Linked DNA regions of Homo sapiens. The protein of the gene in region 1 purifies or fractionates together with the protein of each later gene. This does not show direct contact. Each region holds a gene or a part of one and is shown on either strand. Other genes may lie near its edges.

The links.
Region 2: the proteins of SMPDL3B (region 1) and IFIH1 fractionate together in Homo sapiens (co-fractionation; one large-scale study listed by BioGRID). This does not show direct contact.

Annotation. Positions count from the first base shown.
Region 1 is NC_000001.11:27,937,936-27,941,761, forward strand, and holds part of SMPDL3B (acid sphingomyelinase-like phosphodiesterase 3b isoform 1 precursor), read left to right. Parts: intron 1-3,826. UniProt on the Homo sapiens protein: Lipid-modulating phosphodiesterase. Active on the surface of macrophages and dendritic cells and strongly influences macrophage lipid composition and membrane fluidity. Acts as a negative regulator of Toll-like receptor signaling.
Region 2 is NC_000002.12:162,283,966-162,287,791, forward strand, and holds part of IFIH1 (interferon-induced helicase C domain-containing protein 1), read right to left. Parts: intron 1-3,826.

The DNA.
Region 1 (3,826 bases):
CCCAGGAGTTACTGCCCCTTCTATGGCAGTAACCCAATGATTTAAAAGTTACTACCCCTTCCCTAGAAATTTCTGCATAAATGCCCCTTAATCTCCAGGCAATTAAAAGTGGGTATAAATGTGACTGCAAAACTGCCCTGAGCTGCTACTCTCTGCCTCTGGGGTAGCCCTGCTCTGCAGGAGCAGTCATGGAGCTGTACATCACCTGTTCACCAAAGCTGTTTGCTTCAACCTCAAGCTTGCCCTTGAATTTTTTCCTGGGCAAAGCCAAGAACCCTCATGGGCTAAGCTCCACTTTGGGGCTCACCTGCTCTGCATCACAAGCATCCCTCTGCTGGGTGCATTCTAATCCTCATTTTATAGATGAGGAAACTAAGGCTCAGCTCTGAAAATCCCTTGCTTAAGTTGCCACTGCCTGTATGGAAGAGCCAGGATTCAAAATAAGATGTCCCTGATTGCAGGTTTCATGCATGTCCTTGCAGAAATAACTTACTGCCTGAAGCCAGAAAACTTAGGTCCTACCTGTGGTCCTGCCTTTGAATACCTGTGTGACCTGCAACCTTTATTTTACTGTTTATAAAATAGGGATGTTAGCAGAGGAGAGATTAAATGTGATGGCCTTAAGTGAGATCATGCCAGGTACATTGTAAAATGTTGTAAAAGTTTAAGGAGGCATACACACAGATGGTCCCTGACTTACGAAGATTCCACTAAGCTGTATGATGGGGCGAAAGCCTTAGGCATTCATTAGAAACCACACTTCGAGAAGCCATACAACCACTCTGTGTTTCACTTTCAATTCAGTATTTAATACATTGCAAGAGACATTCAACACTTAATTATAAAATAGGTCTGCATCAGATGATTTTGCCCAACTGTAGGCTAATGTAAGTGTTCTGAGCTCCTTTAAGGTAGACTGGGCTAAGCTACGATGCCCTTTGGTAGGTTGGGTGTGTTGAATGCATTTTTGACTTATGATATTTTCAATTTTGGGGGACGTAGCCCCATTGTAAGTCAAGGAAAACCTGTATATATCTCCAAGGCCATGCTGGTAGGTGGTGGCAGAATATAGTGCACTGTGATCATTTCCATTCTGACGTGCTCGGCATCCCCGGTCTGCCGCTCACTCGCTCAGTTTCCTCATCTGTAAAATGAGTACATCTTAGGATGCATTTCATAATGTTGTCATGAGGCTGCATGGATAGAGTGTGTGGCACAGTGTCTGGCATTCAGTAGGTGCTAAATGAATGGCAGATGCCTTCCTGCCCCCCTGTCTCCAACCATAAGGGAACTCACCTTCTAGCCATTTTAAGAACTTAGGTTTTATAAATGACTATGACTATGGGAGTTCTCCCCACCCCTATCACAAATCATACTAAAAAGATCCCATATCATGTATGATTTTAATTTTTTTATCTTATTTTTCTTTTTTGGAGACAGGGTCTCTATCTGTTGCTCAGGCTGGAGTGCGGTGCTGCAATCATAGCTCAAGGTAACCTCAAACTCCTGGACTTTAGGGATCCTCCTGCCTCAGCCTCCCAAGTACGGAGAAATTAAATTTCTTTTTAAAAAGTAGCTGAGTGTGGTGGCATATACCTGCATTCCTAGTGTGGTGGCTCATACCTGTAATCCTAGCACTTTGGGAGGCCGAGGCAGGCAGATCACTTGAGCTCAGGAATTTGAGACCAGACTGGGCAACATGGCAAACCCCACCTCTACAAAAAAGTACAAGAAAATTTGCCAGGCCTGGTGGCACGTGCCTGTAGTCCCAGCTACTTGGGGGACTAAGGTGGGAGAATCAGTTGAGCCCAGGAGGTTGAGGCTGCAGTGACCCAGGATCACACTGCTGCACTCCAGCCTGGGTTTTTGTTTGTTTGTTTTTGTTTGTTTGTTTGTTTGTTTGTTTTTGTAGAGGCACGGTTTTGAACTCCTGGCCTCAAGTGATCCTCCCACTTTGGCCTCCCAAAGCACTGGGATTACCGGTGTGAGCCAATGCATGTGGCCCATGAGATTTTTAATATTGCTTTTGAAATGAATTGTTGATTTTGATGACTTACTTGATATTTGTAATTTTTGTCTTTCCTGCACTTTTAGAGTCAATGCATTTTTTTCCAAGTCTCAGATATTTCTGTGGGCCTTGCAGAGCTATGAGGCCTTGGGCCCTATGTCTGTTGTCCCTAGTGAGCATAAAGGCCTGGTGATCCCCTTTGGTGAAGGAGGAGGCGGGCCAGGACACTTTTTGCCTGCCCAGGGACGCGCTGTGCCCACCAGTCCTCCTCTTAGAGATGGTCATCTGGGGCAGACAGGCTCTATCTTCATCTTGTTTCCCTTCAGATGTCCTGCCTGCCCTGCCCCTGCACTTTACCTGTGGACAGTAGCCAAGGACACGCTGGGGCTGGCTGGGTAGAACGTGGCCACTCCCCACCTTGTCCTGTCTCTCATGGTGAGAGGGGGCCTTGTAGAACCCCCCAGGAACCAAATGTGGAGTAACCACTGCTTCCCATTTATGAAATCATCTCACATTTCTCATTTTAATTCTCACGAGGGCCCCAAGGGGTAGGGGGCGCTGTTATCTTGATTTTACAGAGGAGGAAACGGGCCCAGGGGAAGGTTCCGCTGTTCACACAGCTATGGGGTGGTGCAGTAGGACTCCCTCCCAGGTCTGTGGCCTCAGCTACTCACTGTACTCAATACCAAATTTATTTATCTTCTCAGTAATAAATGAATAATAATGATAGCTGAGATTGGTGTACCTTTCTATAAAACTCAAGTTATAGATGAATACTGTCTTACTGTAAAAGGTCCAAGCAGTGCGAATGTAGAAAGCCTCTTAACTTTAACAAGATCCCCAGTGAAGCATCTGAACAGTAACATTTGAGAAGTTCTGGTCTAAAGGGTAAAGCATTAAAGTACCCAGGCGCCCACACCTCCCCAGTCTCACTCCTGGCCCAAGGGGTAATTGCAGGTAACGGTATGGTGCGTTGGGATTGTCCTCTATGAGCCCTTTCTCCTTCACTATCTTATTTGATGCTCACTGAGAGGCAGGCCAGATGTCAACATCCTCTAGCTCAGTGAGGCCTGGTGGCTTGCCCAAAGCCCCTAGGCAAACACATGGAAGAGGCTGGATTAGAAACCAGATCTCCCACCTCCCCATCCATGGTCCTGACATGCTAATTAGAGCTTAATTATTTTGATGTAGGGCCTGGAAGCTGATGGATCCCATATTCTTATGGAAAGCATGTATTTATTATTACAGCCACCTTCTGGGCGGCGGGGGGTTCCAAGTCAACAGGCATGACGACATTGTGTCTCAGCTTTGGGGTCAGAGAGGTCTGGGTTTGAGCCTTAGTTTGCTTATCTATGCAGTGGGCATAAGAATCCCTATCTCACAGACTGGCTGCCAGGATGAAATAAGACCAGTGTATGAAAGTCTGGGCACCTATCCAACACTGTCTGAGTGCCTACAATTCTAACTGGCCTCCCCACAGCCTTGTTCATTCATCGAATGTGCATTTGCACGTCTTCCACGTCCCAGGCACCCTTCTAGGCACTGAGGACATAGAGGTAAACAAGACGGGCTTGGTGCTCTCATGGAACTGACATTGTAAACAGGGAAGATGGACAATAAGCAAGCCAACAAGGTAAGTTCACATGTGATAGTGCTCTGAGAAAAAGGAAGCTGGGGAAGAAATAGCGACCAGACAGGCAGGAGAGGTGGCACTTGAGATGAGGTGGTCAGGGGAGTCTTCTGAGGAGGTGACCTTGGGGCAGAGGCCTGAATGAGGAGGAGGCAGCCGCATGATGATGTGGGAAGATTGGGCGAGGC
Region 2 (3,826 bases), on another chromosome or scaffold:
AAACTTTCATTTAGTTCTTTTTTTTTTTCAAAGTAAAGTCTCTCTAATCTACCTGTTACAAACACGCTTGAGAAGTTTAGAAAATGCAGACTCCTAAGTCCCACTCAAGAATTACTGAATCTAGGGACAATCTCTGGGGGGCAGAGGCTTGAAACCTTCACTTTAATGACATTTAAGCCTTTAAAATTTGAGAGTCACAGCTCTGCTCTTCTCTCTCTCTTCCACAAAGCCGTTCTTGAATCATTTTCTAGAAGTATTCTTTCCATTTCATTTATGCAAGACAGAAGGCTTCTGAGGAAAAGAATGGAAATTAAGTTTAGTGGAAAGAGACAGCATGATGCAGAGGGAAGAAAGCCCTGAAAACAGCTACTCCAGCCACTTACTTCTTTGTACCTTGGACAAGGTCTCAATCATCTTAATGCTCTCAATTTCCAGATTAATAAAATGAGGATAATGTTAACCTATTATAGGGTTGTGAAAATTAAATGAAATAGAGGATGCTGTATTGTCAGTACTAAAACTTCCACGATATTTCACCAATCCTTTTATTCTAGAAGGAGGGTGCAGTGGCAAAGGAAGACCAGTGGACTCAGAAGATAAAAGTTCGTGTCTCATTTCTGCTGTTTCTTGGCTGGATGATCCCTGAATTGCCAATTAAAGTCTTGAAACTTCAGTTTTCTGATGGGAAAAAATGAGAATAATAAAGACTACCTTATGGGGTTGCTGTGTAGATTTAATGAGATAATATATCTGAGAGTGCTTTATAAAGTGCAATAAAATATTAATTATCATATTATCAACATATATCTCTCATCTTTCTTCTAGACTGTATATTTCGTGAGGACAAGATCTACATTTGATTTGTCTTTAAATACACTCATGCTGAATGATTTAATTAAGAATCTCTGTATTATGGAGTGACATTGCACCACAAAATTCTGCCCATAAAAGGTGAGTCAAAAATCTTCAAAAGAAGCCGCACCTTCTGATGTACAGAACAAAAAGAAGTTGTCACAGGAGATAGCAGATGCTGGAAATCCTGATACTCGCTCTGGGTGGTGTTGACTTCCTACTGAAGGACACAGAGAAAGCCAGATGCAAGTCTGACATGGCTAATTGGGAGGTGTGTGGTCCTCTTGGAGCCTTTTCTTGAGATGTGACAGAGTGCCTGCCAAGACTAATCAAACCCAACTGCTACCCACTTCTGCTGAATCATATGGGGCTGCATTGCAGCATCTGAAGGAACCTGGGATTTATCTCTCATGATGTTGAAGCCCTAGATAGGAAATGGAAAGTCTGGGAACACAGGTGGTGTTTTCATTTCTCTCTGCATTCGAAGGCTATAACTTTGGAAAGGACGGAGGAAGGGAGATGAAAGTAAATGGTGTTAGAGAACAGGATTTCTTTTTTCTAGATCAAGGGTAACAATACCTTGTTGTTGGGCCAAACACAAGATTCAGGTTACTTAGACTTACTGGGCCAGAGGTGTTCTGACTCAATCAAAAAGAATTAAAACTGAAATTAATTTAAAATTCAAAAAGATGGTATAGTAAACAATTATGACATAGATGGAAGAATTAGTGGAGGGATTTCTAGTAATTCTAAGGAGAAAAACAATAGAAAAGCAATAAGGAATTAGAGTCAAGTCCCCAGGTGTCCACACAACAATGCAGTGAATGTGAATAATTAATGAGGATAAATTAATATTTAAACATAGCCATAAATGTGCATTCCGAAGAATCATGTAGATCCAATGCAATGAAAGATTCCTGGCTAGAATATAGCATTGAGAAGAGAAGGGAATATTATAGAAAGGAAGATGCATCAGACACATACAAAAATATGAGACTTGAAAAGATCAATAGTTAAAGAAATAAACCTAAGTATTTGAATTTAGGCTCAGAAACTGACTGCACAAAAATAAATTAAGAATGTTCTAGTTTAAGAGATTTTCAAATAAAAAGGAACTGAGGATTTTGATTCTATGACAAGGTCCAGATAAGTCTGTGGATGCCAGAGGCAAATGCGGTCATAAGCTGGGTGTCATATCTCATGTCTCCTACGCTCTGCACTGGTATGATCTTATCTGTAGTATTTTGCCCAACTCTGGACACCGCATTTAAGAGTGTCCCAGAAAAATGTCTGAAGGAGTATGAGCACTAGGAATGATGACAGGTTTAGAAACCATGTTATATGGAAAACAGTTAAAGGAACTGTGGACATTTATTCCAAGGAACAACAAAAAAAAGTAACTTAGGAGCCACATGATGCTGCCTTGTCTATGTGAAGGGCTGTCATTAGGCTGGAGAATTAGGACTTCGTGTGGTTGCAGAGGAAGGAACTCTAACCGGTGATTGTGGGATTCCAGAGAAACAGATTTGGATGAATACAAATAGGGCTTTCTAAGAGTGTCAGTGTCTTGTTAGTAGGGGGACCTCCTTGATATTAGGAAGTTACCCTGCAGAAGTGAGAGAACCACTCTGCAAAGGAAGAAAGCTGAATCTCGAAGCCCCTTTTCAACTCTATTAGCCTATGTCCCTGTGACCAGATAAGGGAAATAAAGGAAGTAGATGAATTAAAACTAACTCCTAGGTGTGGGGGCTGCATGCTTTGGAGGAGGTGGTATTACTCACAAAGAGACAGGTAAATGGGGAAGAGGAGCCTTTGGGAGGGTAGATGGTGAGGCTGAGTTTGAGAAAATGGCAGATGCTCAAATGGTTTCAAAATTATCAGTTTAAGTAGCTTTGAATCCAGTTAACTTGGTTCTTTTCTTTGGATTTGGCACTTAAAAGCCTCCCTGGTTATGTTACTTAGTTTCATGAGTTATGAAGGTGAAGAGAAAGGAGCAGGAGAAAGCTAGTATTTAAGAGTAAAAGCAGGAGTCATTACTAGGCCATATATAATCCAATTGAAATTTCAGAGCAGGGTAGTTATTATTTTGTTCATTTTGCAGATGAAGAAATTAAAGTTAGAGAAGTTACTAATTTGTCTAATTCAAAGTACCGGTAGGTAGAAATAGGATTCAAACCTATTTCATTTAAAAAAATAATATCCTGTACAAAGGGAATACATATGCAAGTCTATCGGCAAACAAATTTGAATGTGTCACCATTACCAGCAAAATAAATAAAAGTGTTTTAATAGTAAGTATACAAGTATAAAGGAGAGCTCTTTGGACTTAGCAGATGCACACAAAATGCATTTGGAACTACATGATAGGAATCATTCAAATCATGGATTCTAAGTACTGAAAAACAGGATGTAACTAAAACTTTTAGCATAATAGAAATAAAAAATAGAATATTTTACAGTCTACTGCTTTTTTTTATAAAGGAATAGATAAGAACAGAAAAAAGACTTTCTGATCAAGGAAAAGTATGCTCATTTTTATTCCATAAAATAGTAAATATTCATATCCCCAATTTGTATATTTATAAATTAATAAACTGTCATTTATCTGAATAAAGCTCAAATGACTAGATTTTGTTTTACGGTGAAGCAGACATATTTACTTATGAAGATGGCCTTCAAATACCCTAAGATATAAATTATTGAAGGAAAACTTCAGTTGCATTTAATGTAATATGTGTATATTTTATATATATATATGTATACTTCTTGAGCATTTTAAAATCTATTTAACTTGATGTAGATACCAAACCTTCACTTAATTTTATCTCCAAACCACATTATATGTATTCTGGAGAAAGAGGACTTGCCATCTTTGACTAAGGGTCAACAGCTAAAGAGAAAGTAAAAAACAATATTTGATCCTTGATTCCAGTGATATTTTGGGGTCATTCATATTCATTTGCAATGATAAATT